Regions from separate parts of the Homo sapiens genome. Here region 2 is linked to region 1. The links come from fine-mapping of genetic effects on gene expression. Tissue or cell type: testis. Region 1 holds a variant in brackets; the other region holds the start of a gene. All regions are shown on one strand. Distances are between the middles of the regions.

The links.
Region 2: SCN3B starts here. The variant in region 1 is fine-mapped to the expression of SCN3B in testis (GTEx, PIP above 0.99).

What each region holds. Positions count from the first base shown.
Region 1 is chr11:123,628,492-123,643,233 of GRCh38, reverse strand. It overlaps SCN3B (sodium voltage-gated channel beta subunit 3), which reads left to right. Exons shown (of 7, transcript NM_001040151.2): 4 at 563-788; 5 at 4,910-5,048; 6 at 9,028-9,113; 7 at 9,458-14,046. The coding sequence ends at 9,091. LOC124902777 (a long non-coding RNA gene) reads right to left here and starts at 4,695. Exons shown (of 2, transcript XR_007062929.1): 1 at 4,614-4,695; 2 at 1,760-2,267. The variant G/C (reference allele first, on the strand shown) is at 9,269.
Region 2 is chr11:123,646,403-123,663,275 of GRCh38, reverse strand. SCN3B (sodium voltage-gated channel beta subunit 3) reads left to right here and starts at 8,652. Exons shown (of 7, transcript NM_001040151.2): 1 at 8,652-9,050; 2 at 9,450-9,529. The coding sequence starts at 9,475. LOC105369543 (a long non-coding RNA gene) reads right to left here and starts at 9,591. Exons shown (of 3, transcript XR_948124.4): 1 at 9,124-9,591. RefSeq lists silencers at 8,409-8,638, 9,199-9,268.

The DNA.
Region 1 (14,742 bases):
CCTGTGGCCTGGCCCAGACTGTCCTACAGCCCCTGATGAGTACCAGCACAGAGAGTCCAGTTTTAAAGCCAGGGCTTTCATATGTCTTCATTACTAATGAATCTGCCTGTCTTGCTGTCTCTACCTTGTTCTCTTGCCAGCGGCTCTGGGACACATCTTACTCTCTTGTTCTCTCTATCTTTTTACAATCCTGTCTTTCTCTCAATGTCCGTCTCCTGGGCTCCCATACTCTTCTCCCGCCTGCCTTTGTTCTCCCTCTTTCCACCCCTTTTTTTCTGCCAAGCTTCTTCCTACACGCCCGTGGCTGCCTCTGTCCTCACCACGTCCACATGCCCTGATGCCTGCTGCCTCTGCCTGTCCTTCCCTGTCTTTGCTCCCTTCCCTACCCTCCTCTGTGCCTCTTCATCCCACCCCCACATTCTGGGTCTCCCGGTGGCATTGTCCCCTCTCTTCCCTGTCCATGCACAATTCTGCTCCTTTTCTCTGCCCTGTCCCTAACTCGGCTTCCCCCCACTGCCATCTCCTTTCCTGGCCCTACCCTCTTCTGCTCCTCTATCTGCAGATTTACGAGTATCGGAATGGCCACCAGGAGGTGGAGAGCCCCTTTCAGGGGCGCCTGCAGTGGAATGGCAGCAAGGACCTGCAGGACGTGTCCATCACTGTGCTCAACGTCACTCTGAACGACTCTGGCCTCTACACCTGCAATGTGTCCCGGGAGTTTGAGTTTGAGGCGCATCGGCCCTTTGTGAAGACGACGCGGCTGATCCCCCTAAGAGTCACCGAGGAGGGTGAGGCTGAGGCACAGGGTCTCTAGGGCGTCCTGCTCTCTGTGGACAGGGAAGGGTAGGACAGCAGTTTTCCACGAGTGAGGCCCTTAAAGAGTGCAAAAACCCATGTATTTGGAATGGTGACATCTAAAAATGTCACCATTGACCCATCTTCTTCTGGTGGCCAGCTTCCTGTAAATTCCCTAAGCAGCTTGTCTTTCTGTGCCTTTCCTCAAAGCAGAAAGGCTTGGAGATGATAGAATGAGCTCTTCCTGGTCCCTTAGAGAAAGAGGCTAGCCTCCATGAGGCCTAAAGCTACTGATTCAGCTAGGCCTTCTTCTTTGGCCTATGTTGAATCCCTGACTCAGTGGGCTCAGAGAAATCTCATGAGGTTACCCGGAAGTCATCTCTCCTTCTACCTGTAAGCAATACATGCCTCTAAGCCAGGGGTTCTCAAACTTTAGCAAACCTCAAAATCTCCTGCAGGGCTTTTTGGAAGCCAGCCTTTCTGCTTTTGTCGGTGGAGCCTGAGAGTTTGCACTGCGTGACACACTGCCTGGCGGGCAGTGCTGCTGCTGGGACCACACCTTGAGAACCTCTCTCTAAACCAAAGTTTGACAATCTTTTTTTCTTTTGTCTTTCTTCACAGTAATCACACGTGCAACCTCTTCCCCATCTGTGGCATCTCTTATTACATAAATTCATTCCCTGCTGGGAGAAGGGGACAGGTTGATAGCTCTCTAGTCTTGTTTAAAATCTTTGGACTCCTACAGCTAGTTCCGTGTTCGTGAGTGGGAAGGCCTTTCAGCAGCCTAACTCAGGTGTTTCTGTTGCAACCGGAGTCCTGCATCCTGAGGGGGGAGTTCCAGCCTTTCTCAGTCTATCTCCAGCATTATCACTGCTAGTGAGCAGGCCAAAGTGTGGGGCATGAAGGAAAAGATCAAGTTAAAGACAGGGCTCTTCCTAGAAAAAAGGATCCAGGAATCCCAACCTCCAGGCCACAGGTTTATTCATTTTTTATCATGTCGTTGTGATAAAAATAATGAAGCGGAGATTCAGTCCTCAGAGTGAATGAACAAAGGAGAAAGAGACATAACGGATCAGACGATATGACTAAAATGGAAGGTAGGTCAATTCTGAAAGTGCAGAGGGACTCTCAGGGCTCCTGAATCCAGACCTGATGAGTCACTTCCCTGCTCGGAGCCCCGCTCCTCTGGTGTGAAATGAAGGGGTTGGCGGGGGGCTCTCTGAGGTACTCCCCTGTTCTGAAGTTCCTTTATCCCCCGTTTGTTACACGCCTTTCCTCTGGGGGGTGGGGCCCTGGCGCCCTCTCCTGGTCACCATCTGGAACTTTTGGTTGGTGCCCGCCAGACCTTAGCACAGTGCTCAGCCGTCTCCACCTCTGCTCTCTCGGGCTTTTGCCTCCAGACACCCTCGTGCATAGCTGGTGGGAAGTGTGGCAAGGCTGAGCTAGTTCGTCTGCCAGGTACCAGAGCAAGCCTCGGGTAAAAACAGAAGGAAAAACAAGTTTATTATCAGAGCCACAGAGCCTCGTGGATGGTCGGGTGTGAAGGAAGCGTGGATATCATTTATTTAATCCAGGGCCTCTGGATAAAGGGCAGACATCAGAATCGCCCACATTGGCGTCCTCCAGATGTAGACACCTCTGCAGCACCCTTGCAGGTGTGAGATCGGCAGGGGTGAGTGAGGTCATATGCAAGTTGATGACTCCCCAGGTGATTGGAGGGTGTAGCTCTGGTGCCCCTCTTTTTGTGGCTGGGAGAACAGAGTTCTCTGCAAGAGCAAGGGGCTTGCTCAGGGACGTGCAGCAAATTCGCGCTGGAAGCAGGGTGAAAATCCAGATTGTTCGCCTGTCTGGAGGGCTTGCTTTCCACTGTTTCTTTCCCCACCCCCACCACCCCAACCCCCTGCCACTTTTTCTTTTTTGCCTCTGTGACATCAGATACTCCCTGCCCTCATCTTGCTCAGAGCTACGCACCCACCCCACCATGACACCTGCCCATCAACCCCACATCTCCTCCATTCCTGTGGTCCCACAAGGTCTCCCTGGTTCTCTTTGTTCAAGTTGGGTTTATTCTGGCTTTGGCTGTCACCTCCTGGCCCTAAGGCAGAAACCTGAGGCCTCTTCACCTAGAGGTAACTAAAAATACTGAGGACAGCTTCCTGTATTGCCATTTGTGGGCTACTGCATTTTGAAAGAGAGAGCATGCTTTAAGCCAAACAAATCATAAATAATGCACGAGGTGGTAGCAAGGCGGTGAGATGTTTGAGCTGTACGGCATTCTCATGTGCCTCACGCTGCATCTATGACCTCTAGCTCCAGTTGGAAACCTGGGTGATCCTGGAGCCTTCGGACTGCTCTCTGGGCTGAAAGTTATGGCAGGCTGTGCTGTGCTCTTAACAACCAAGGACTTGGGGATGACTTAGATCCAATGGATAACTGCAGATCATAAATCTGACTTGCTGTTGAGAGCTGGCAAGGGGAGAGGTGGCTACAACATTTCTCCCACTAGCAAGGAGTAGATATATCAGGATATCTGCCATGTAGTATGTTTTAATGGTCCTTTTTGTTGATCATGAAACAAATAAGATAATATTTATTTTCACTCATTCAATAAGTACTTATTGAGCACTTTAAATATTCTAAGATTTATACAGCAGGCAGATAATCCAGAAATAAATATGTTCTCAATAAGCACACAGTCCACAGAAAAGAAAGATAAGCACAATACAACTCTTATAACAGATGGATGAGAAAAGTGCATGGAGGCCAGACGCGGTGGCTCACGCCTGTAATCCCAGCACGTTGGGAGGCCAGGGCAGGAGGATCACCTGAGGTGAGGAGTTCGAGACCAGCCTGGCCAACATGGTGAAACTCCGTCTCTACTAAAAGTATAAAAAATTAGCTGGGCATGGTGGTGGGTGCCTGTAATGTCAGCTACTTGGGAGACTGAGGCAGGAGAATCGCTTGAACCTGGGAGGCGGAGATTGCAGTGAGCCGAGATCATGCCACTGCACTGCAACCTGGGCAACAAGAGCAAAGCTCCATCTCAAAAAAAAAAGAGAAAAGAAAAGTGCACGGAGAAGGTTGTGAATAGCTCCGCATGAGAAGTTGGGGATGGTTTCACAAAGGAGGGGACCTCACAGGAATCTAGAACTACTGCGAGACTGCAAAGCAGGAGAGGATATTAGCACAGAACTAGCCGTGGGTGAAAGACACAATTCAGGAAGAGGGAAGAGGAAGAAAAGTTCACAGATTCTAACATACCACAGTGTGTAGCAGAAGTTTTTCTGGCCAACCAAATGGAAATGAGGTGAGAAAGCCCGGATTGTGAAGGCCCTTGCATGTCACGTGAACAGAGTTGGGGCTTCATCCTAAGGGGAGTGTGGAGCATTGAAGAGTTTTCAGCAGGGAAATGGCAGGATCCTAACTGTGTTTCAAAAGTACAGCCCTGGGGACAATGCGGTTGATACACTAAATCCTCCAATATTTATGTTTGGTTTTGGATGACCTGGAAGGTCTTGTTTCTAACCCAGACTTGTAGAGAACATGCGCATATCTCATGGAGGCTGTCTTTGTTGGCCCTGAATGAGTTTTCCAACGCTCTCTCCCCAGGAATACCACCCTCCACCACCGGCAGCTCAAAAGACAGAGGCAGTTGAAATAAGGCATGTTCCTTACATCTGTGTAGACTTTTAATCTCACAAGATGTTCTGAAATACATTAGATAATGTAATATTCACAAACCCCTGACTGGTGTTATTATCCTCAACCTACAAATTAAGAAACTGAGTCTCAAGTAAGGGAAATGGTTGTTTACACACCTGTAAATAGCAAAATGGACAGCCAGCTCTAGATATCTCACTTTGAGGCCAGGATTCCTTCCACTGCTCGGCTACTTCTTCCAGGCATCCCACTCCCTCTTCCCTGGCTCCTGAGCAGCTGATGACAGTCAGTGAGAAAGCCAATGGGCGGGAGAGTCAGGATTTGGAATACCTTTGACATCTTCTTGAGTTTCTTTACTCAGTCTTTATTTAAGCTGTACTTAAAAATATGGCTCCAATGACGGCTCTAGGTTTGCTGGATTTGCATATTCTGAACCTCATTCTCTTTCTTTCAGCTGGAGAGGACTTCACCTCTGTGGTCTCAGAAATCATGATGTACATCCTTCTGGTCTTCCTCACCTTGTGGCTGCTCATCGAGATGATATATTGCTACAGAAAGGTCTCAAAAGCCGAAGAGGCAGCCCAAGAAAACGCGTAAGTCCAGAGATGCCAAAGTAATAATGAAAGCTAGCACCTTCAGAATGCTTGCTCTCACAGGTGAGGTGCTAAGCAGTTTACATTCATCCTCCACCCTCTTCATGATCACTGCTTAAGAGATAGGCACCATTATTATACCCATTTTACAGATGAGAACACTGAATTTCGGAGAGTTGGCTTAAGGCAAACTCTTAATTCATTACGAAAAATTAAACATTTGCTTAATTCAAACATCACTTAGGAAACAAAGTGATGTTTGAATTCAGGCCTGTTGATTCTTGGCCAGCACACTTAACCACTAAGGCAAAGACCATCAGCTGCTACCACAACCCGTTAAAGTAATATTATTATGGCTGGGCATGATGGCTGTCACGCCTGTAATCTCAGCACTTTGGGAGGCTGAGGCGGGAGGATCACCTGAGGTCAGGAGTTCAAGACCAGTCTGACCAACATGGTGAAATCCCGTCTCTACTAAAAGTATAAAAAATTAGCTGGGCATGGTGGCACATACCTGTAATCCCAGCTACTCGGGAGGCTGAGGCAGGAGAATCCCTTGAACCTGGGAGGCGGAGGTTGCAGTGAGCTGAGATCGTGCCACTGCTCTCCAGCTTGGGTGACAGAGCGAGACTCCATTTCAAAAACAACAACAATAAAAGCCCAAAAACACAACAAAAAAGTAACATTATTATAACCGTTCTGTAAATGCCAAGCCGACTCATAGCAGCTTACCAAGGCACACAGATGGTAAGAGGAAAGGCTGAGATTTGAACCCAGGTCTCTCTAGTGCTAATGTCCATGCTCTTTCTATCTCATTGAACTGTTTGCTTTATACCATGGAGCTCCTCAGGCCATCTGGGCACTGCCCTTTGCTAGCAAAGGAGCTCCAAGCAACATGTTATTTCCCCTAGAGCCTGGCAGCGCTTAGATGTCCAGAGTGGGGACTCTAATCCTCTAAAGTCCAGCCTGTACCTTAGCCATTTGCTCAGAGACTCTAGTCACTTGAGGGTGAGCACATTTGAGAAACGGTGGGGTCTGTAAGAACAAAGAGTCTTAAGAGATCATGCTGGCTGGTTGTCTGGGGAAAGGAAAGATAGAAAAAACCCACAGATTTCTAGCAACATTGCTGAGGCAAACCGAAAACAGTCTAGGCTATTACCAGTTAGAAATGTTTGATAAAGAAAGCATCATTTTGGCCGGGCGCGGTGGCTCTCGTCTGTAATCCCAGCACTTTGGGAGGTCGAGGCAGGCAGATCATGAGGTCAGGAGATCGAGACATCCTGGTTAACATGGTGAAACCCTGTCTCTACTAAAACTACAAAAAATTAGCCGGGCATGGTGGCGGGTGCCTGTAGTCCCAGCTACTCAGGAGGCTGAGGCAGGAGAATGGCGTGAACCTGGGAGGCGGAGCTTGCAGTGAGCCGAGATCACGGCACTGCCCTCCAGCCTCGGCGACAGAGCGAGACTCCATCTCAAAAAAAAAAAAACAGAATAGAACAGAGAATGGAGGAGAGACAGTGTTCAGAGACAGAACGGCTGAGGGAGGGATGACTCTTCAGATTCAAGAAGCATAATATGCCCTGAGCAGGATGAATAAAATACATCTACACCTAAACACCAAGCATCTTTAAAGTGATAAATGGCAGCTACTAAGAGACCCTACAGCAAATATCATCTATGTGTTGAAACCTCAAGTGCCTGTAATATCAGGGACATATCAAGGAGACTGCCTCTCCCTGTTTCTATCAATATTGTGTTGGAAATCCTAGGTGAAGACCAAGTAAATACAAGGAAGAAAAAGACTTGGAAAGGAAGAAACTAAATTATCATTATCTATACCTACTATTTACATAGGATACCTAAGAGAATCTACAAAAATACTATTAGGACAAGGAAGAATATTCCACAAAATTGTTGATAGAAATCAAAATATAAAAATCACCTATATTCCAGCAACAAATTTAGTAACAAATTTAAATATTTAAAATATTAAAATGCTTTTAAAGTTACAATAGCAAGAAGTACTCCCCAGTTCCGGGGATAAATTTGACAAAAATATACAAGACATTTAAAGAAAAAGTTAGAAACCTTTACTGAAAGACTTTAAACGTAACTAGATGGAGAGTAAAACCTCACAATTGTAAACAATTTTCTCCCAAATTGATCTTCAAATTCAATGAAATCCCAATCAAAATGCCCATTAGATTTCTCAAAGAACTTAATAAGCTGATATTAAGTCACATGGAAGGCTAAGTAGCCAAAAATAGTCTTAACCAAGGGACAGCCAGATAATAAGTGTTTTAGGCTTTGCAGGCGCCATAGGTCCCTGTCATGTATTGTTCTTCTATTTGTTTGCAAACAACCATCCTTAGCTCTTAGGCCACAGTTTGCCCACCCTCGGTCTAAACCATTTCAAAGAAAGAGCAGTAAATTTGCAAGAGGTTGGTAGGATTTGTCTTATCGGAGATGAAGGTTTCCTTTGTTTTCTTTTTTTTTTTTTGAGACAGAGTCTCGCTCTGTTGCCCAGGCTGGAGTGCAGTGGCGCGATCTCGGCTCACTCCAAGCTCTGCCTCCCAGGTTCACGCCATTCTCCTGCCTCAGCCTCCCGAGTAGCTGGGACTACAGGCACCTGCCACCACGCCTGGCTAATTTTTTGTATTTTTTTAGTAGAGACGGGATTTCACCATGTTAGCCAGGATGGTCTCAATCTCCTGACCTCGTGATGCACCCGCCTTGGCCTCTCAAAGTGCTGGGATTACAGGTGTGAGCCACTGCGCCCAGCCAGATGAAGGTTTCTTACAGAGCTATCAGAATACAGAGTTTGTGATACTGCACAGGCATACGAAATGGACAAACAAAACAAAAAGCCACCAATCAGGTTAATGCATGTAGGAAAACCTGATATGTGAGAGAGATGACGTTACAGTGATTGAAGGAAGAATGAACTGCCCAGTAAGTGGTCTAGGGAAAATTCCTAATCTATATAGAAACAAAGAAAAACACAAAACAAAATTAGATTCCCCATCTCTCATACTAAACCAAAATAAATTATGAGGGGATTTAAACACAAAGTAAAATGTCAAACTTGAAAATTCCATTAAGGGAATATAAGAGACTCTCTTTATCACCATGCAATAGAGAGGATTTCCCAAATAAAATACAAAAGGCACAAATCCAAGAGGAAAAATAATTTTGATCACATTATATGTAAAGAATCAGCTGTTCATTAGAAGACTCCATAAGCAAAATTCCTAGACAAACAAGAGATTGGGAGAAATTGTCAAAACATGAAAGCATCAAAGGAAAATCAATGAGAAAAAGACAAAGATCTCAGAAGAACTGGAAAGCAGATGAACAAATTTCAGAAGCAGAAACCCAAATAGCCTGTAAACATGTGAAACAACTATAAAATATAATTTCACAGCTGTCATTTTGACCAACATTTTATTTTATTTTTGAGACATGGTCTCACTGTTGCCAGGCTGGAGTGCAGTGGTGCAATCATGGCCTCGACCTCCCAGGCTCAGGTGATCCTCCCACCTCAGCCTCCCAAGTAGCTGGGACTACAGGCACGTGCCACCATGCCAGGCTAGTTTTTTGTATTTTTTGTAGAGACAGGGTTTCACCATGTTGCCCAGGCTGGTCTTGAACTCCTGGGCTCAAGCAATTTTCCTGCCTTGGCCTCCCAAAGTGCTGGGATTAGAGGCATGAGCCTTGGCCAACATAATAATCTAACTAAATGCTGAAGACAACCTGGATAAATGAGAAGCTATACACTCCTGGTGGGTGTTCGTGTACATATATGGGGGAAATGATTATTTTAATCTGCAGAAAAGGTTGTTTTTCTCTTGAGAAACACAGCAGAAGGAAATGCAGAGCTGTTCTGTAGATCCTTGCTCCTGTGCCCTGCTCCTTCCCCATCTTGTGTTCCCACGCTGGGCACTGAAGCTCTGATTCCCTTTCCCTGTGTCCTCTATAGGTCTGACTACCTTGCCATCCCATCTGAGAACAAGGAGAACTCTGCGGTACCAGTGGAGGAATAGAACAGGAGCAGTGTGACATGAGGTGACCTACAGGAACATGGGAGGGGAAGGCAGATGTGGATGGCAGGTTGTACAAGTGACTTTGTTGCCCACAACTGAAGTGACTTTAAATTTGGTCCCTTAGGTCACTGTCTACCCTGCCTGGGGTCCCCGCCCTCAGGGTAATTCTTTAAGTCA[G/C]AAAGCTCTGTATGATGTCAGCGCTTCGGAAGGTGAACTGCTTTGACCTGAGTGTCGAGGCAATCTGAACTTGCCCATGGTAACAGAGGCACAGGATTCTCCAACTCCCTTCTTTGGTCAAAGAATTTTTGGGCTGGGCTGGGCTGGACTGGGTGGGAAATTCTCAGTGAGTTATTTTATCTTTGGTAGGTGGCCTGAACACCTGAGGGACTGGACATCCCATGTTCAGCAATGTCAATGGCATCAGGAGGGCGCCCCAAGGGCCCCATCGCTTCCCTTCATGCATCCATTGTTCTGTTCATTCATTCATCCATACATCCACCTGCCTCTGAGCTTTCACCTCTGACTCCCTAACTCCATCAGACCTCTACGCACCATAAGACTCTGCCAGAACTGAGAAGCCAACATTTCTACATAGACTCAACCTCACCCTCTCCTAGTTTTCCAACAAGACACTCCAAAGCCAACTGGATTTCTCCCCTGTGCTCCAAATGACTTTGTACAAGTGCTGGAGTTAGCACCTCCCTCTGCCCTTAACTGGCTGGAACTGGTTCATTCTCCATTACTGCAAGAGAATGGAAGTCTTAATAGAAGGAAGCAGGAGTGATTAGTTCGGGTTAAAGCAAAAGTGTGTCATGAACTTGGATTCCCTGAAGTCAGTTTTGTCAGGTTCATGGCCCACTTTGCTACAGCATCAGAGTGAAGCACGCCTGTCTAGGTTCTCCAGTGACAGAAAGATCCTGAAGCATGGACTAACATGCTCTCTGGAGCTTAGTACTCCAGAGCTAGATCCTGATGGGTCTCTAAGGTTCCCTCCAAGAAGACAAGGACAGGAGACTTGGGAAGGACCAATGGTAATTTAAGTGGCTCTTAAAAAGTCATGCAACATGTTTCTGGACACGTTCCTGATCCTATTGCGATAATGTATGTGTGCCCTCCCTGTGGGCACACCACCTGGGCATTAGGACTGAAATTCCTGAGTTCTTCCTCTCAAAATTTCTGTGCACCAGTATTATTCCTCATTTTACATACAGGAGGCAACTAAGACTCATACAGGGCTCAACTGAATAAGAGGCTTAAGAGGATAAACTGGAGCAGAAATAAGCCTTAGGTGCTGCCCAGTTTACACTTCCTGGGATGGATGTTTTTGTTTGTTTTGTTTTTTGTTTTTTTTGTTTGAGATGGAGTCTCACTCTGTCACCTAGGCTAGAGTGCAGTGGTGTGATCTCGGCTCACTGCAACCTCTGCCTCTTGGGTTCAAGCAATTCTCATGCCTCGGCCTCTCCAGTAGCTGGGATTACAGGTGTGCACCACCACGCCTGGCTAAATTTTGTATTTTTAGTACAGACAGGGTTTGACTATGTTGGCCAGGCTAGTCTTGAACTCCTGACCTCAAATGACCCACCCACCTCAGCCTCCCAAAGTGCTGAGATTACAGGCGTGAGGCACTGCGCCCGGTGGATAACTTTGTTTCTGAAAAGACTGACATTGAACTTGTCTATGGCAATGCTTCTTTCACAAGCACGGACTGGGCTGAGGTCAACTCTGATAGATTCAGATGACTAGAAATTGGCCAAAAAAGCAGGGAGAAGAACATGAGGTAGACTTAAAGAACTTCCTTTATGTAAAGATCTGTGACTCTGAAATATCCTCCAAAAGGAGAGTGCATCTGAGACTGATATTTAAACTAAGAAAAATGTTTAGTCTGAGATGGATCATAAGTAAATGAGCAGTGTGAGAGGGGAGGGATGGGTAGGTGCTTTCCAAATACTTCGCCTATGAATGCATAATTTTCAGATTTTTTTCCCCTAGATTTTGAGGGAGCAGAGAAACTGGAAAAAACTTTAGTCAATATCTCGTGTTTCATTTTAATTAAGTGACAGGTCCAAGTGTGACATCCTTCAGCACCCAGGGACAAGAGAGGGGAAAGATGCTTTATGGAATGTAAGAAGATGAAGGTGACTGGGATTCAGCGAGAGAGAGGTCCCTCAGACCTGGGACCTCCCTTTATAGGGAAAGACCATATTCCATAGGTTTAGGGCTTTACCTTAAAAGCTCATTTTTTTCATTCTTCCATCCCTAGGAAAGTACTTAAAACCAGACTTTTAAATTTTTATTTATTTATTATTATTTTTTTGAGACAGATTCTCACTCTGTCTCCCAGGCTAGAGTGCAGTGGTGCAATCTCAGCTCACTGCAGCCTCAACTGCCCCAGGTTTAAGCAATCCTCCCACCTCAGCCCCCAGGTAACTGGGACTACAGGCATGCACCACCATGCCTGGCTAATTTTTGTATTTTATGTAGAGACAGGGGTCTTGCCATGTCGCCCAGGCTGATCTTGAACTCCTGGGCTCAAGCAATCTGCCAGCCTCAGCCTCTCAAAGTGCTGGGATTACAGGCCTGAGCAACTGTGCCTGGCCCAAAACCAGACCGTTAACACATTAAAGAGTCTGATTTTGTTGAAGAAAATATTTGCAATAAATTCAAGACTCTTCTTATTGGTAATTTTCCACACAATCCCTCTGAAATAAGGGAGAGGATATAGACCTTTTTAACTTTATAGTTAGAAAAATTGGCCTCAGTGTGAAATTTTTCCAGTCCCATAGCTCATGGATGCCACCAGCTTGCGGTAGTAGCAAGATGCTTACTACCACACCGTTTTCCTCGGTGGCCCAATAGCTCGTGTATCTAAGTTGAACCCGGCAGTATGCATGATTGCCTTTTTCTCTTCTTTTTAAAAAAACCCAACTCAGATGCTGCTTGCGTGGCTTTTAATGAAGCTGAATGGTATCTATCACTTATTTATCCTTGACAGGTTATCTTCCCCACTCTTCCTTTTTCTAACTTCTCCATTCTTCTCATTCTTGACACTTTCATTAGAACTATATGGTTTACGAAGTATTTTCACTTAACTATTTTATTTCTTCTCTATAACTGGTCCTGTGAGGTCACATTACAAAAGAAGAAACTGAGGGTCTCTGAGGTTAAGTAGCTTTACTAAATTATAAGGAAACCTAGCTGGTAGGTAGACAGCAAGAATCCAGGTCTTCTGACTCCTCTTTCAGTTCTCTTTCCACTTAGACCATAGCTGCTTCCTTTTCTTATTTTTTAGCTTCCATCTAACCATTGCCTATCTTGCCTGTCCTAATGTTCTCCATCTTCTCTCACCCCTAATCCCACTCACTGCTTCTCTACCACTTTGCTTTTTGGTGGATGCTAGCAATGTGCTTTGAGAGTCAGTCCTATTTTGGTTCTCTTTCTAGTTGGTTTGTACATCATTATTTCTCCTGAATTGCAATTAAACTCCTTCCTGGGAGATTTGATAATGACTGTAAATCAATAAGGTACTGTGATCACCAGCCTACTTCCAATCTCCACCCACCTCCCTGTCTCTTCCCATAATCCTACGAAAGACCCAGACTAGATGTCTGTTTCTCTGGAAGCTTTATCTGGCATGATGTTGCTTATTAAAGGGCTTAGAAGAGTTCTCAAGGGCTATTAATATCACTTTAGAAACCCCATCTGTTGTCTTGGTGCTGGATATTTCCCATGTCTGATCCTCAATAACACAATTCACTAAAGGCCAAGCTTGGCTCAATCTGATTTTCCCATTCTTACTACTTCACAGCCATGAATGTGATTGCTCAATCCAGTTGGCCCTGAGAGCACCTTGCCCTGCTGACCTTCACTGTCACCTCGGTCTTGAATCAGAGCCCCAACCCAAACACTCCCTGCCTGTCCCTACCCCAGCCTTTATTCTCACCACTTGTTTAACGGCATGACCTTTTAGTTTCTCCATTCCCAGACACCCACACACCCAGACTTCCTTCTGAGTTGCAGGTTTCTCCTTAGATGTCCAACTAGAAATATTACTAGGAAAGTTACTTTTCAAAGCAGGAATGTGCTGGGAAGTAGGAGACAGCAACTCCCTCCTCTCTCCCCAAAATTATTGGATCAAAAAAGAAATTCCATCCATCTCAGAATCTGTGAGTCCTCCTCACATAAATCTGAGGGAAAAGGCTGTGTCACTGCATCTTTGCAGGAAGAAAGAGAAGCAAGAGCTAGACACACTTCAGAATATATCTTAGTTTCCCCTTTCCCAGTTTAACATGAAAATGAAAAAAGAAAAAAATGAAAAACAAAAACAAAAGAAGCCTTCCTCTCACCTCATTTTGTAAATGAAAAATCCCTAATTCAGTGAATTCACCTAGTCACTGCAAATGTATCTGAATAGTGCTTGGTGTGCTTGCCAGTCTGATCATCCACTCATTCTACTAACATCTTTTTGCACCCACTCTGTCAAGCTCTAGCCTAGACCTTTAGTGTGCCATGCAGTCACAGGTCTGAAAAGCAGCATCATCCAAACCTTACTTAATCTCTAAAATCTCAGCTGGTGGACAGCTCATGATTAGTTCAGCCCACTTCCTCCCCCTTAGTTGAGTTTGCAGCAGGACGCAGGAGATAAGCACTTCCAAGCAAGTCTGATTTATATATCAAACTCGGTCTCCATCCCAGGCCAGCTGACCCTCAGAGCCAGCAATGCTCTGTGCTTCCTCCCTGCGTCACGGCTTGGCAAGAGCTGCCTCTGCTGAGCAGTGTGTGTGATGGAGACGGAGGCCGCTGAAGGCCGAGTGCTTGCAGGCTTGTGAACTGCCATCGAACACAATCCAAACTCTGGAAATGTTCCTGACCACCTAAGCCCTCAACAACGTAATGCCTGTATGTGCTGTTTTTCAGTAAACTCCTTGTTCATGTCAATAAAGTATCCCTGAAAACCACTGTCTCTGGTTTTGCTCTACTTACTAAGTGTGTCTGCACCATAGACTATGGCTTCCCCCAGCACCCCAGCCTGCTTCAAATTCCCATACCCAATCTGTGGATATGCATGAGAATGAAAACCATGTAATAGCCTTACATTAAACACACACTAAATGTGTGATCTAGCCTCTCCGCTTCCCTTTCCTCCTCTACCCCAATACAAAGGAATACAAGAGTCACTTATGTTCTTGCCTGACATCAAACAAGTTTCCTTACCAGGCATCGAGGAGCTCCCTGCAAGGCTGACCTAATGAAGGGAGGAGCCAATCTGGCTCTCAGCTCCACCAGTTTAGGTAACATAAAAGAAGAACATGGAGCAGTCTCTCAACATTCATCTTCCTGGAAGTGTTAAGGCCCGAAGAGGGAAAAGTTCTATAAGAAACCATCATCGGGATTCACAGTCCACCACAATCTCCTGCAACAACAGTACTACTCATCATAAGATTAAAAATCGGCCGGGTGCGGTGGCTCACACCTATAATCCCAGCACTTTGGGAGGCCGAGGCAGGTGGATCACCTGAGGTCAGGAGTTCAAGACCAGCCTGGCCAACATGATGAAACCCCATCTCTACTAAAAATACAAAAATTAGCCGGGCATGGTGGCAGGCACCTGTAGTCCCAGCTACTCAGGAGGCTGAGGCAGGAGAGTTGCTTGA
Region 2 (16,873 bases), 19 kb before region 1:
AGAGATGATTTAGGATATGTGGTAGAAGAAATTTCTAATCAGCAAAGCATTCAAGATTTGACTTGGATGCTGTTAAAGGAATTCAGTTTTGGAAGGAAAGCAGAGCATAAAAGTTTGAAAAATTTGCAGCCTGACAATATGATAGAAAAGGAAATGCCATTTTCTGAGGAGAAATCCAAGCTGGCTGCAGAAATTTGCACAAGTAGTGAGAAGCAGAGTATTATTTCCCAAGACAATGGGAAAAATGTCTCCAGGGCATGTCAGAGGTCTCCATGGCAGCCCCTCCCATCAAAGGGCCTGAGGCCTAGGAGGAAAAAGTGGTTTCATGGGCTAGGTCCAGGGTCCCATGCTGTGTGCAACCTAGGGACTTGGTGTCCTGTGTTCCAGCTGCTCTAGCTGTGGCTGAAAGGGGCTGATGTAGAGCTCAGGCTGTGGCTTCATGGGGTGCCAGCCCCAAGCCTTGGCAGCTTCCACATGGTGTTGAGCCTGCAAGTACACAGAAGTCAAGAACTGGGGTTTGGGAACCTCCACCTAGATTTCAGAGGATATATGGAAATGCCTGGATGTCCAGAAAGAAGTTTGTTGGAGGGGTGGGGCTCTCATGGAGAACCTCTGCTAGGGCAGTGCAGAAGGGAAATGTGGGGTCAGAGCTCCCACACAGAGTCCCTACTAGGGGACCATCCACCTGAGATGGTCCCCTACCACAGATGGATGCGTGAGCCACTGTGCCCAGCCCCAAATCACTTCCAATAGTAGAAATGGAAATAAATGTGAGCTTGGAAAAGATCAATATAAACAAGAAAGATAATTATTTACCCAAGTTTTGGTATATCTGAGTGATGGCAGTTGTAGTGGTGGTGGGTTAAGTCATGGAATAAATGCTTAGAAAGGGAAAATTGTAAGGAGTGCTTCCTACAATCATGCAGAGGAAATGGGACACACCTGTCCTGGAAGACAAGGCCACCATCCTCCAGACCCCAGAATGGTAGATCCACTGACAGCTTGCACTGTGCACCTGCAGAAGCCACAGACACAAAGCCAGCCCATGAAAGCAGCTGGGAGGGAGGCTGTACCCTGCAAAGGCACAGGGACAGAGCTGCCCAAAACCATGGGTACCTACATCTTGCATCAGCGTGACCAGGATGTAAGACATGGAGTCAAAGGAGGTCATTTTGAAACTTTAAGATTTGACTGCCCTGCTGGATTTATGACTTGCATAGGGCCTGTAGCCCTTTGTATTGGCCAGTTTCTCCCATTTGGAATGGCTGTATTTACCCAATGCCTCTACCCTCATTGTATCTAGGAAGTAACTAACTTGCTTTTGATTTTACAGGCTCATAGGCAGAAGGGACTTGCCTTGTCTCAAATGAGACTTTGGACTATGGACTTTTCAGCTAATGCTGAAATGAGTTAAGAGTTTGGGGGACTGTTGGGAAGGCATGATTGGTTTTGAAATGTGAGGACATGAGGTTTGGGAGAGGCCAGGGGGCAGAATGATATGGTTTTCTGTGTCCCCACCCAAATCTCTTATTGAATTGTAACTCCCACAATTCCCATGTGTTGTGGGAGGAACCCAGTTGGATGTGATTGAATTATTGGGGTGGGTATTTCCTGTGCTGATCTTGTGATAGTGAATGAGCCTCACGAGATTTGATGGCTTTAAAATTGGAGTTTCCCTGCACAAGCTCTCTGGCTGCTGCCATACACGTAAGACATGACTTGCTCCTCCTTGCCTTCTGCCATGATTGTGAGACCTCCCCAGCCATGTGGAACTGTAAGTCTAGTAAACCTCCTTCTTTTGTAAATTGCCCAGCCTTACGTATGTCTTTATCAGCAGCATGAAAACAGACTAATACATAGTGTGTCTTAAAAATAAAACTTTTATATTAGATGAGGCTAAACAGTTGCTTACAGAAAACAGAAAAACAACTAAGAGGTTTTCATTCATGTTAATCCATGTGAGATCTCCAAATTTTAAGCACTAAAGAAAAAGAAAGAAAGAACACAAAACATATTGGATTTTCCCATGTCTATTTTCTTAGATTTTATACTTTCCCACCATACTAGAAGTTTTATGAGTAAAGGAATTATTCCTACTTTTTCTCACACATAAATACACACAGCACACTCATTTGAGAACTGCACAACATACGACAAGTCGTTAACTTCCTGGCTGATGTGCACATGGAAGTGTCTTTCAATGATGAAGATCTTAAAGAAAGATATTAAGATCTTAAGGCTTTTGGAGACAAAAAATCGGGTTTCAATTATGGTTCTGCCCATGCACTTGAGTAACTAAGTCATTTAACTTCTCTTGTATTTATTCCCTCAAAAAAAAAAAAAAGGAGAATTCTAATAGTGCCTACTTTTTAAAATTGTTAGAATGATTAAATAAATTTATCAATTTATCAATAATATATGCATATCATTGTTCTGGGGCCAATGCATGCCCTTAAATATAATGATAATGATGAAAATGATAACAGATTAATGATAGATTATGAAAGCTGATTATTTCCCATTATGCTGAAGTTAACAGCTGAACCTATCTCTGTAAGGATTTTCAAAAATTATCTAAATAGGAACTGAACACTTCTTGGTTTATAGGACTTGACAAAATCCAAGACACACTCGTATTATCTCCCTTGTGCTTCCAGCAACTCTGGGAGGCAGACAATTAGAGAGAGAATTTGTTCAGAGAGATTAGGTGAAAAGGTCAATACTATACTATCTCAGAGCAGCACTAAGCATGGGACACAGGCCTCCTGTCTACCACCTGGCCCTCATTTTGTGGTTTCATTTTCTTCTTCAATAATATTGCTTATAAACATTGAGTCAATCAGGGCTCAATGTTGCTGTTGCCCAAAACTTTGGAACAACAACAGGACTTTGATCAGCACCAAAGATAATGACTGTGCTTATTTCTACAAGACATCTTGATATGATTTGTTTTGGTGTCCCCACCCAAATCTCATCTCAAATTGTAATCCCCACATGTCAAGGGAGGGACCTAGTAGGAGGTGATTTTATCACGGGGGCAGTTTCCTCCACCCTGTTCTCGTGATAGTGAGTGAGTTCTCACACAATCTGATGGTTTAAAAGTGTGTGGTGGTTCCCCACCCCACTTCCTGCCACAATGTAAGACGTGCCTTGCTTCCTCTTTGCCTTCTGCCATAATTGTAAGTTTCCTGAGGCCTCTCCAGCCATGCAGAACTGTGAGTCAATTAGACTTCTTTTCTTTATAAATCATCCAGTTTCAGCCAGTTCTTTATAGCAGTGTGAAAAATTAAACAATACACATCTTTTCTTTCTGCCTATCCTAAGAGCTTCAGCCATATGCATGCCAGAAATGCATTAAAAAATTATGCCATGCTAATAACAATACTTGAAATATATTATAACTTTGCTTCTGGGTAGCATAAAGTACTTTATCACTGATAATATTTTCTTTATTTCCATTTACACGTTTGGGTGATCAAAACTAAACATAAATAGTGCTCTGGCTGAGGCAGAACCATGGACTTTCTAGAGATTGGTCAAGAGCAGATGGCATTTCTTTTGTGCACAGGGTGTTATGGAGGTGGGCAGGGCTCTTCTGGATGTCAGGAAAGCGTTGGCTTCCACAATCAGTCAGGTGACATCCAATTCATTTCAACAAACATTTTTTGGCCCCATCTTACCTGCCAGGTTCTGTGCCATTTGCAAATCCAGGAAGGAATTGCATAATCTAATCATCATGTCACTGCTTCCTATTCTAATCCCAAACTTCCCTTGCCTGGTGACAACATCACACAGCTGGCTGGCAGGATGAGGGAATGATTTGGAAGAGCCTGATATCTCTCAGTCCCATATGTGTTCTTTGGCCACAGTTTAAAATGAACATATTTCTTCCCTTTCCTTGTCCCATGGGGTGTGCACTATTTTTCAAAATCCACTTCGAATAGCAAAAGCAGGTTACTTGACTTTCCTAGGTTGGGCTCTGATTTTTGCATCTTGACTGAGTTCAGGTACATGTTGATCTTGAAAAGCTTTTCTTGACATTTTTCTATGCTTTAAGAAGGTGCCCTCAGTTATTCAGACTGTCTCCCTTGTCCTGGGTTCTCCTGTACCTCCCTACCACCTACACTCAATGGAAAATGTGGCTTCCTACTTTACCAAGATCATTGTGTGTCTCTTAAGGTCCCACACCTTATCTTTACTTACAATGTCACTTCCACTGCTCCTGTCTCTAATTCCTCCCCAGTAGTCTCAGTGAATGTGTTTCATTCCACAAGAAAACTAACATCTCCCTGAATAGCTCCCATTCAATTCTTTCTTCAGCAGAGTCATGTCATTCCCTCCACCTCAAGATCCCTGAATATCTAGGCTCTGTACTCCATCCTCTTCCTCAATCTCTGAGCATAATTAGCTAAAGTCCCCTCAAAGGAGAAGTGTCCTTAAGTCTAAAGACCCTCTTTTCCCTGGCCTGCCATGGCATTGCACCTTGCTGGGTCTCTTCCTATTTCTCTGACTCTTGGTTTTCTGTTCCCCTATTGATTCTGGCCTCAGCTCTTCACTGTTTCCACACTATTCTCACTCCCTTGTGTATTCATTCACTTGTGTCCTCTGTGAAGAGGACCTAATATCTGCTTGGCACTGATCTAGGTGCAGGACGGCAGCAGTAGACAGAACAAACAAGGCTGCTATCTATCACCAAGGAGAACCAGCCTGATGGGAGGAACAGAAAATAAGCAAGTACATATATTAAAAATAAGATAATTTTGGATAGTGAGAGAAGATATGAAGAACAAGAAACAGGGTGATGAGATAGAGAGTAGCTTCAGGTGAGGAAGGTAGCAGGAAACAAGCTTAGAGTGACCAGGGAATGTCACTCTAGGGTGAAGTCATTTGAGGCAAGACCAAAATGACAAGAAACCAGCCATAGAATGAAGAATGTTCCAGGAAGAGGGGACATCAAATGCTAAGGCTATAATAATAATGATGGGAAATATTAATAGTGGGGAAGAGTTTGATAACTATGAGGTACATTTCTTTAAAATTAAGTGTAATTGGAACATGGTGGACAAGACAGAGAGTGGTAGAAATGAGTGTGGAGAGATAGCCAGGGCACAAGGCCAACATTAGGCCATGGTGACAAGTCTAGATTTTATTTCAGTGTAGTGAGATGCCATGGAAGGGCTTTAAGCAAGAGAAGTTCCCATCTTTTAGAATACAAAGACTGTTCTGTCTACTCTTTGGAGAATAGAGCATATGGTTTCACCCATTAACTGTGAAGGGAGAATGATTATTAAATTGGGAGGCCAAGTCAACAACAATGAGAAAGGATTGAAGCCAAAATGGCAGAAAAGAGGAAGGGAGAGCTTAATTTAAATGATTTTAAAACTCTCAGAACAAGGCCAAGAGTACTTCAGGGAACTTAAGGTACTTGCAAAAGTGACTGAGAGTGACAGCCAAAAATCAAGGGAAACAGCAGGAGAATGAAAAGACTAAATGCTCCTATTTTCAATACAGGAGAGGGAAGAAGTGGTATATGAAAAATAGAGGTGAAATCCTGACAGTGACTATTTACAATGGGGTTGATAAACAATTAGAAAACAACATTATGAATATTAGCAATTCACATGAATAGACATAAGAAAAATTTTGTAAAGCTGAGCCAATTCCTGCTGTGGTAGTTGATAAAATTATCAGACTGAAAATATTTCAGTCTGTCTGTGTATTTCAGTCTTGGTAAGGCTTTCAATAAAGTCATAGAACCTCAAAGACGATAGGAACTTTAACATAATCTATTCCAAATTTCTAACCTTTACAGGTTTTCCTTCCTAAACATCCCAGCAGTTGTTTGGATAACAACTGCTTGGATGTAACGAAAGGTAATTTGTCCTACTTTGGAAAGGTTTGAAATGTATTGCTGAAAATCTGTTTTTGTGTTAGTGTAAGCCATTGATCCTATTTCTTTCCTGTGGATGACTAGATGTCTAATTCCTCTCACAGATTCCTTTTATTCTAAATTTTCAGAATGTCTCATGCTGTACATATAAAAAATAGGGAGCTATGTTTGGGTTTTATGATTGAGCAACTGTTCTAAAGAATTTTAATTAGGCCAGGTGCAGTGGCTCATGCCTGTAATCCCAGTGCTTTGGGAGGCCAAGGCGGGCAGATCACCTGAGGTCAGGAGTTTGAGATCAGCCTGGCCAACACGGTGAAACCCCCTCTCTACTAAAAATTCAAAAATTAGCTGGGTGTGGTAGTGGGCACCTGTAATCCCAGCTACTTGGGAGGCTGAGGCGGAATGATTGCTTGAACCTGGGAGGTGGAGGTTTCAGCGAGCCGAGGTCACACTACTGCACTCCAGCGTGGGCAACAAGAGTGAAACTCCGTCTCAAAAAACAAACAAACAAACAAAAATGTTAATTAGTAGCTCATTGTCAAGGTAGAATGAGGTCTTTAGAAGCAGGCCATAGGACTATCTCTTCTTTTTTTCTATTGGTTCTTTTTTTAAATATCCATGTGTGGATCATGTGATTGTCAAGCCTAGAGATGAAACAAGGGTAAAGAAGAGAGATATATTGGGTGATTGAATCTGAATTCAATAAAAGTATTAACACAGTGTGATAACTGGTTGAAACTAATAAATTTTAACAGCAATAAGTGCAAAGTTTCATAATAAAATTTCCAAAATTGCCTGTACAAGACACAATGACTCTGCAACAAGTCAAGTGAAGAATACTCAGGGATTTTAATTGAACATAAGCTGATTATGACTAAGATGTGGCTGTAAATGTATTTAACTAGTTATATCCTTCAAAGCAAATGTAGCCATAATTCCACTGGATTTATGCTGGTCAGACCACACAGGGACCATCAGTTCCTGTTCTGGACGTCACTTGGAGAATCATGCTGAGAAACTGAAAGTCCTTCTGAAAAAGCAGCCAGGGTGGTACAGGATTGGAAACTACTAGAAAATACATTGGAAGAAACTAAGGAAGAGTAGCCACAAACAAAAATGTCTTAGGGCGGATGTGAGGAAGCATAGCTCTTTTAAAGAGAAAACAGCATTAGGGCCACTTAATGGAGTTTGGAGGGGGAGGAGGAGTGTACGGAATTCAACTGAACATAAAGAACTTCCTTAAGCATCAGAAGAGGTGAACTTGTGATGTAGAAAGTTCTCATCACTAAAAAGATCAAGGCCAGGCGCGGTGGCTCATGCCTGTAATCCCAGCACTTTGGGAGGCCGAGGCGGGTGGATCTCCTGAGGTTGTGAGTTTGAGACCATCCTGACCAACATGGAGAAACCCCATCTCTACTAAAAATACAAAATTAGCCGGGTGTAGCAGCGTATGCCTGTAATCCCAGCTACTCAGGAGGCTGAGACAGGAGAATCACTTGAACCCGGGGGACGGAGGTTGCGGTGAGCCAAGATCGCGCCATTGCACTCCAGCCTGGGCAAGAAGAGCAAAACCCCGTCTCAATAAATAAATAAATAAATAAATAAATAAATAAATAAATAAAATCAAGTCCATTCGTCCGAAATGTTCTTGGGGGAAGTCACAAATTGGAAAAGCGGTTGAATTAGGTCAACTTTAACTTCCCATCCAAATTTAACACAGTATACATGCTTCAAGGCCTAGTCCTCCAAACAGCACAGAGTTTATGGCCTGGTGGCTCCCTGCCCAGGAAGATCCGACTGGGGACATTCTGTTACTCTGTGAGATGTCAGGAGGGAGCATTTCCTGCTTCTGGTCCACTCACCGTCAGCTGTTGCTCTGTTATTCCATTTTGGAATATCAGCGTTAAGCTTCCCCTTTTGGAAAGAGCAGAAGAGGAGAAAAAGGAAGCTGAAGAAGGGCTCTTGGATTACTCTTTTACTTCAGTTCCAGGCGTTCCTAATCTGTTATGTCAATTTGAGTTTATAGTTGAATGTAAAGTTTCAGGTTTCCCTTCCAGAGATGGGGCGGGGGCACTCAAACAGCTGCTAGGACTAGGGAGTGGCTAATAGTTGGAAGACGCCAAACACAATCTATCTGCTTTATTAAAAAGGAGTAATTAAAGGAAAAGGGAGAACTGCAAAGAACCTGGGGAAGGGAAGAGGAGTCCTCTTGGGCCCCCCTCCCCTTGCGCTGACATTTGGATCACCTCACTGAGTGATGAGGTGAAGACAGGAACAGGTGCGCCTCATCCCTACCCCATTTGCCCTAAACAGGGATTATCTTGCTGAGTTTGCTGTGTCCGGGGCCAATTAATCAAGGCTAGACAAAGGATAGACAGCGAGAACTGGAAGGCATGGGGTCTGGGAGGCGAAGCCAGGAACCGCGTACGGCGCGCCTTGCAGATGACATCATTGCCTGAAAGAGCTCTGGCCCTTCTCTTCCCGGAGCTACACCCGGCAAGTCCGTGCGGGAGCGGAGTGGGTTTGCCTGGAGGGCGTGAGCCGAGGGCGGCGGTGCGCCCGAGCTCGGGGGAGGTGCGGAGGCGCGAGAGGGAGACCTGGAGAGACCAGCGAGCGCGCGAGCAAAGATATCCCGGCTGGAAGTGTCTGCGCCGCTCCCGGCTCCGCCCCCGCTCGGCGCGGCGCTGGGCCTGGGAGGGGCACGCCCATCAGGGGGTGGGGAGTGTGCACTAGGGGGAGGGTCCGGGGCGGTGGTGGTGGCGGAGAGCCGCCTGCGCATGTCAGGGCTGACAGCACACACGGCCTGGGGGCCTAGAGAAGGGTTGCTGATCACCTGCCACCCAGGGTCGGGGCCCCGCACCATCCGGGGGCGAGCTCCCGGGAAGGGGCTCCGCCTCTACACCCACCCCCCAACCTCTGACATCGCCGGCCGAACGGGAGCTGCCGCTTCCTTCCCGGCCCCGCTGCACCTCCCCAGGGAGCCGAGGGCGGGCGTGGACGGGACCGACGTGGAACGCATTCTGTAGCCCAGACGGGCGGCCCCGGCGGCTTCGGGAGTGGGGTCACGCCCAGCTGGAGAAGCAGTTAGGGCGGACGAAGCAGGAGCCGCGGGGCTGGGAGGATTCCAGTCGGAACGCAACCGATCCTGGGGAGGCGAGAGGTGAATCAACCTGGACCCTTCCACAGCCTGGCTGCTAGGCCAGCAGTGCGACTCCCTTCCGAGCTGAGCTTACCCTGGGCGCAAACGAGCGAGGCAGGGGCGCGAGTGGAAGCTGGAGTTCCGGGGTGGGCGGGGAGGCGACTGTCCGTGGTGCTGAGCGCCGGCGAGAGCGGGCGCGGAGCGGCTGATCGGCTCCCTCGAACTGGGGAGGTCCAGTGGGGTCGCTTAGGGCCCAAAGCCCCCACCCGGCTCCAAAAGCTCCCAGGGCCTCCCCAGGCACCGGTGCTCGGCCCTTCCTTCGGTCAGAAAGTCGCCCCCTGGGGGCAGTTCGTCCCAAAGGGTTTCCTCGAAAGAATCTGAGAGGGCGCAGTCCTTGACCGAGGGAATCTCTCTGTGTAGCCTTGGAAGCCGCCAGCCCCAGAAGATGCCTGCCTTCAATAGATTGTTTCCCCTGGCTTCTCTCGTGCTTATCTACTGGGGTAAGTACCAGCACCTCGCCATGCCGGATGCAGGTAACAGTAACAATGCTAACAATAATAACACATTGATGTCGTTGGTGACAGAAAAGAGCTCTGGCTGGCTTGCCTCTGTGCGTATCTGCCAGACATGGAGATGGCAGGGGTTCCATGAGAGCTGGGATTTTGAGATGGGAAAGGCGCCTCCCCACCGCCCTTCCCCGCTATTCTCCAACCTCCTTTGGTGGTTCTTCCGCCCTTCCTCCAGTTTCCTGATCATTCCAAAGTATTTTTTCCCTTTCCCTTTGCTGAAAGGAAATGCAGTCACGTTCACGAATAAAAACCTCCTGTGTGGTTACATTTTATTTCTCATCAAGGAGTCTATACTCCTGGAAAGCTTACTGGGTCTTCAAATTCGTTTCTGTATATTAAAAAAAAAAAAAAACCATAAAAGCTGGATGCATGAATTTTGAGAGTGAAAATACTTTAGTTGCTCATCATCTTCTTAATTTTAACAAGGAATGGGAAGAAAACAGCCTTCAGCCATTTACTGCTATATATTAAATAAATAGGCAACTGTGAAATGCATCTTTCTTTTTCTTCTTCTTCTTTTTTTTTTGGTTTGTTTGTTTGTTGCATGAACCTGTGGAACTAAGATGCTTTGGTGTTAGGGGAGGAGAGCTGGGTTTTTGCCTTCAAAGGTGAATAGATTCTTGCTTGTCAGCTGTGAGAAACTGAGGTGACCTTCCCCCTCCAAATAAGGGAATCTTACACTTGGAACAGTAAAGGCTGAAGAGAGTGTCAGAGACGGTCTTGGAGTGCCTGAATGTGTGTAAAGGGGATTGATCTATGTGATAATGTCTGATTGTGTGATTGAGACAATGTTTTACTGTATGTAAATATATTTCAGTGTCTGGATGTGTGCACTAGCATGTGTGTGAGCATGTTGGCATAGACATCTGAATGCATGGGTGAGTGTAGTAGTATGTGTATGGCAGGGGTGGGGGTGGTAGTTCTGGGCATGTCTGCCTTGGTGTCTATGATTAGATCCTCAGATAAAATATAGGTTCTCTTCAGCAGACAGATTGCTTTACATGATCTTAGCTACCTTTCTCCGTGCAAAAATCAATACACAGGGTAATTGGACACAATTGTACCCACCTGCCTCCCTGAAACGAGGCATGTGAGCTTATGTTCCCATGGTTGGCATGAAACTCATCCTGCCTATACGGTGGCAGACATGCTGATGGGAGCTGCCTCTTTGCTTTAGTATTACTTTTTCAAGCCTCCAGGACTAACTCTAGCTGCCAGCATTATCTGGATTTTGCATGTGACCAGAGGCAGAGCCAAGCTTCCTGTCAAAATGCCTGATGAGACGGACTAGGAAGGTTGAGGAGGGAGGTAATGTCAGCCCCAAAGGCGGACTCATCACCAGCCATCCCCAGTAGAGTAGACCAGACCTGGAGATGGAGCAGCTATAATATGTTGCCAATGATCTCACCTGCCTTGAAGATTAAGGCTGAAATTTTCTCAGGGGAGGCTAAGGCTGAGGACACGAGGCTTAGAAGATGTTAGCCTGGCCAGATAAAAAGAGCGTCGGTAAAGCTGAAGTTGTGGATAAGGGTTGGAGTGAGACTCTGCAGAGACTTTCTTCCTGAACTCTAATCTAAGATTTTGAGATCCCTGCCTGAATTCCAGTGGAGGGAGAGAACATGCTATCATCCAAGAATCTTTTAACTAGAACTTGTGCAACCTGCATTGGAGTCTCAGCTTTGCCACTAGCTTACTATATAACAACCTTAAAGTGCTATCTGGTTCCTTCTGTGTAATGTTTGGAAGTTGGCACGGGTGATATCTAACATCCTTTTCAGCTCCACAGATGAATGGTAGAGAAATCTTTGAAGAATATTGCTAGAATTGACAGAGTGCCCATCCCCTCCCCGACCCCAAAAAACTTTGGAAGAAGTGTACACAGTATGCCCATCTTTGCCCATTCTCAGTTTCTTTGCAAACTGAGTGTTGTCTCACCAAACTGAAAAGCTGTGGAAGGGAAAGAGAAGTGGTTCAGGACACTTGGTTGTTAACTGTAAGAAAAACAGCTTCCCTTCGCCAGGCGCAGTGGCTCACGCCTGTAATCCCAACAATTTGGGAGGCCGAGGCGGGTGGATCACCTGAGGTCAGGAGTTCAAGACCAGCCTGGCCAACACGGCGAAACCCCATCTCTGCTAAAAATACAAAAATTAGTCGGGCATAGTGGTGCGTGCCTATAATCCCAGCTACTAGGGGGACTGAGGCAGGAGGATTGCTTGAACCTGGGAGGTGGAGGTTGCAGTGAGCCAAGATTGTGCCACTGCACTCCAGCGTGGGCAACAGGGCGAGACTCCATCAAAAAAAAAAGAAAGAAAAACAGCCGCCCTTCACAGATACAATTTCATTTGATTTGCATGCAATTCCAATATTGAACAATAATGCTGGGTTAGATGTGTTCCCCCTTCCAAAGTTGATTTTTTAATATGATGTACAATATGAAGGGAAAGAGTCTTTCCATTTACTTTCTGCATGCATGAAAAAAAGTTTCCTTATTTCCTTTGTTAAAGCATGTAATAATTTTTATTTTTTAAAGAGATTTAAAAAATAATACAATACAATAAATAATTAATACAATAAATAATTAATACAATAAAATAATAATAATTGTATTAAAAAAATTAATACAGACGATGTCTCGCCATATTGCCCAGGCTGGTCTCTAACTCCTGGGCTCAAGTAATCCTCCTGCTTCAGCCTCCCATAATGCTAGGATTATAGGCATGAGTCACCATGCCCAGCCTTTAAAATAAATAAATAAATAAAACCCTATATTTGCCTGTGCATCACAGTTTACAATGTAATTTTCAATACATTGCTTGTTTTGGTCCTCATGTCTATCCCTGAGGTAGTCAGGGGAAAGAGTGCTATTTCCAGTTTAGAGATGAGAAAATGAGCTCGGGGAAGGGAAAGGACTTGCTAGAGAACCCTTGTTTTCTGATTTCAGTCTTCCAGTGCTCCTTCTAGCACCTCTCATGGACACATGTGCTACTATGCACAATCGCCAGGAGGGCACCTGTCCTCCCATTTCTCTTCTGAGCTACCGTCCCATCTCTCCCCAACACCATCACCTGTCCTAGGGCCTCACTCACTAGCACCTAGTACCTTCTCTGCCCTTCTTCTCCAGGCCTGCCCTTCTAGTTGCCCTGTGTGTTTTCCTCTCTTCCCCTGGTGATCTTTCGTGCATCCTATTCAAGGCCCTAAGTGACCAGCTAAATTGACAGAACAAGTCACGTCAGGGTGTCAGCATCTAAAAATAACCTCATTTATTACCCCTTTTTGGAAATTGTTTATATTCTAATCAAATTTTTCATTATCTCAGTGCAAAGGAAAGCATTCTAGAGCAATCTCAGGAGGAAAAATTGGGCATTGTCCAAAGAAGAGAAAGATTTGAGGGTATCAGAGAAGCTGGTTCATAATTCTTTATTATCTGCCTCATGATAGATGGATGCTACTACTCCCTAGTGAAATATGATCATTATTAATAATCATGTTTTTCCTTCTCATAAATTTCTTCATTATTATTATGGGAATTGAAGAGAAGAACAAAGGTCAAATGATTTGGTCAACATTATTCCAAGAGTTTGTTACTTTTAGTCAGCAATGTAGTTTGAGCTCCTGCCATATTTACAGCCTTCTTTGAATACCTAGAGGGTTTCATAGAAAGAAGGGCAGTGGTGGACTGGGTGCTGTGGCTCATGTCTGTAATCCCGGCACTTTGGGAGGTCAAGGTGGGTAGATCACCTGAGGTCAGAAGTTTGAGACTAGCCTGGCCAACATAGTGAAACCCTGTCTTTACTAAAAATACAAAAATTAGCTGGGCGTGATGGCAGGTGCCTGTAATCCCAGCTACTCAGGGGGCTGAGGCAGGAGAATCGCTTGAACCCAGGAGGCGGAGGTTGCAGTAAGCTGAGATCATGCCATTGTACTCCAGCCTGGGTGACAAGAGTGAAACTCCATCTAAAAAAAAAAGAAAGAGAGAGAGACAGAGACAGAGAGAGAGAGAGGAAAAAAAGAAAGAAAGAAAGAGAAAGAAAGAAAAAAAAGAAAGAAAGAAAAAAGAAAGAAAAGAAAAAGAAAGGAGAAAGAAAGAAAGACAGTGGTGTGCTGAAGACTCAAAGGATGGAGAAACAGACATTACCTCTTGAAGCAAGGAGCAGCAAGTCATACTGCAAAAGGCAAGCAAACAGAGGTGGGGGAACTTTGTGGCCATTTTTCAATGTACTCTTCAGGATCATACGAGCAGAGTTCTCATGCCCTGAAACTAGATTTTGACCAGAAGGGAAGGAGTGGGACTTGCTCTATGATGATACCTTGGATTATTGTTGCCTTAGGGGCAACCAAGAAAAGAGAGGGGCTACCCCACTTTCTGCCATACCCCATTTGCCATCCTGACTGCTTTCCCTCCATTAACTATAAATGAACTAACTATGCTTCTATCTCTGCCATCCCATCTACTTGTTCACTAGAGCACATCACCTCTCACCTTTTCAAAGATGTTAATCCAGCAAATCATTTTCTTGCATTTCATTTCTTTCAAACTCCACCAGCTCTACTGTCATCTTCACCAAAACAAAATCGTCTTCCAATCCGATCCCTGTACCAGACCTCTTAACTGTTTTGATTCCACCCTTGTCCCTTTCACTTCATCAGTTTATTCCCAACACAGCATCAGATCATATGATCTTGTACAAATTAGATCCCATCATTCTTCCTCTCAGAACCTTCTGCTGCTCCATGCAAATGCCATAAACTCTAAGCAAATGCCAAGGTTCTAACATGGCCAATAAGACCTGCTGTGATCTGGCCCTCCCCATCCCTCCTACTACTTCATCCCCTTCTATTCTCACGTTGTTTGCTGTAATTTCCACATTGGACTGTTTGCTGTCTGTTGAGCATGACAAACACACTCCTTTGGGCCCCTTGAGCCCTTGAGTTGCAATTTCCTGTGTTTGACATGCCTTCACACAGATATGTGTATAGCTTGTATCCTCATTTCTTTTCTTCAGCGCCTGCTCAATGATACCTTCTCAGAAAGGCCATCCTCCAATGACCCTGTGCACACACTCTCTCCTGTTTTATTTTTTCTCACAGCACTTTTTACTATTTAATGTTGCTGTTTTCCCTCTCCCTCCATTGGAATGTAAGCTCCATAAAACAGGGATTCTTTTCTTTTGTTCTCTGGTGTATTCTTCGTGCTTAGAATAATGCCTGGCACCCAGAAGGCACTCAGTATATTTGGGAAATAAACGAAAGATAGAATAACATGAATAATGACATTTGTACAAAGCACATTCATGTAAATTAATCCATAAAATTCTCATGATAAACCTACTAGACAGATGTAACTTTCAGCATGATGTCGATGAATAAACTGAGTCCAGAGAGATTACATAGTACATCAAACCCAACTCTTCAGTTGCCAGATTCTATCTTCACCCTGCCTCTATAATTGTAACTGTGCATTCCTTGAGACTTCTTAGTCCACTTCTGAGTTTGTCAACATGAAATGAATGAATTTATCTTTGCCAGCTCTCATTAAATATGAATGTGCCTTGAGGTTCCATACTACACGGAGTTCTTGCTGCATACGCTCTACCCCTCTGCCCACTCACAAACTTTTGCGCAAACCACATTTCCTTTTTGTTTAATCAGATCTATAATCAATACTTCAGACTCATCATATGCTGAAGATGTTTCTGATCAGTTCTCCCTAGATGTGAGTCCTCTCTCCATTAACGTGGCTCACCATCTGCAGAAGCAATAGGTCCTCTTGAAGACTGTCAGATAAGACTCACCCAGCTTGCTGGAGAGTTGAAAACCCAATTACATTTATTTTACCTTGATGTTTACAACTTTAAGTTAATTCTAGTGCCACTAGTTTTTAAACTCCATGTTTTAAAATAAATACATTGCCTTCTAAGTCAATCAAACACAGTTTTTGGACTCAAAATTAATTTATGGCAGTGTCTTATTAAGCTCTAAATAAAACCTTCCTCTGCTTTTAGGAAAGAACGCTCTGCCAGGAGATGAACAGGCTGACCATTAACAGTGGACTAGTTTTTAAATGTAGTGTGTATTATTTCTTTTTTTTTCTGGGGGTTCTGTTTTTATTATTAATTCATGAAAAAGTAGCATCAGAAGGGATCTTCAAAGTCCTAATATAAGAATCTGCGGTGACCATCATGTTGTTTTTATTTTTTCAAGAGATAGGGTCTTACTCTGTCAACCAGTCTGGAGTGCAGTGGTGCCATCATAGCTCATTGCAGCCTCAAACTCCTGGGCTCAAGCAATCCTCTTACCTCCTGAGTGGTTGGGACTACAGTTGTGTGTTACCATGTTTGGCTAATTTTTATTTTATTTTATTTTTGTAGACTCAGGGGTCTCACTATGTTGCCCAGGCTTGTCTCAGACCCCTAACATCAAGCAATCCTCTCAACTTAGCCTCCCAAAGTGCTGGGATTGCAGGTGTGAGCCACAGCACCTGGCCTCGTCTTACTTTCAAATATCCCAAACAATGCTGTGTACACTCTCTTAGCATTTAGTTATTTGCATTTGTGAACAGCTCCAAAATCATAAAATTCTTTCTTTATTGCATTAAACTTATTTTTTTCTTATAACTTTTAGGGTTGGGCAGAATCAAATTTCTCTTCCATCTGCCAGCCTTCAAATATTTGAAGACAGATATGTTCTGTGTCCAAGCTAAGCAACTCGAATTCTCCCATTTTTTCCTCACCAGACTTTATCTCCAGATCCTTCACCATCTCCCTCACCTCTGGGCATGCACTCTTTGAACAACTTCCTTTTTTAAAATGTGACATCCTGAACTGATCATAATAGTCCAGATTTGTTCCAAAAACAGTGCCGAGAAACTACGCCTCCTTCCTCCTGCGTACTGTACATCTGTTAATGCAGCTCACATTTGCGCATGTTTTGCTGGCAGCCTTGTCCCGCTCAAGTTATTCTGAATTATCAAGCTGATATACTTGCCTCCTTTTAAAAAACAGACTTCAAGTTTCTAGAGGGCAGAAACACTAAGTCTTAGACCTCTGTGTGGCATGCAAGGTGTCCCACAATCTGACCCCGCTCCAGATTTTAACTTGCCTTGCTATACTCCTCTGCATAGACCATTGTTCCAGCTTAGTGGTCCGCTCGCCATTTTCTTCACTGCTGCTCCAACCTCCACCATGTGTCAGAATTACCTACAGTTTTCACACAACACAGATACAATTACATCTCTCCACGACTTTAAAACATTGGATACCTCACACTGGAAGGGAC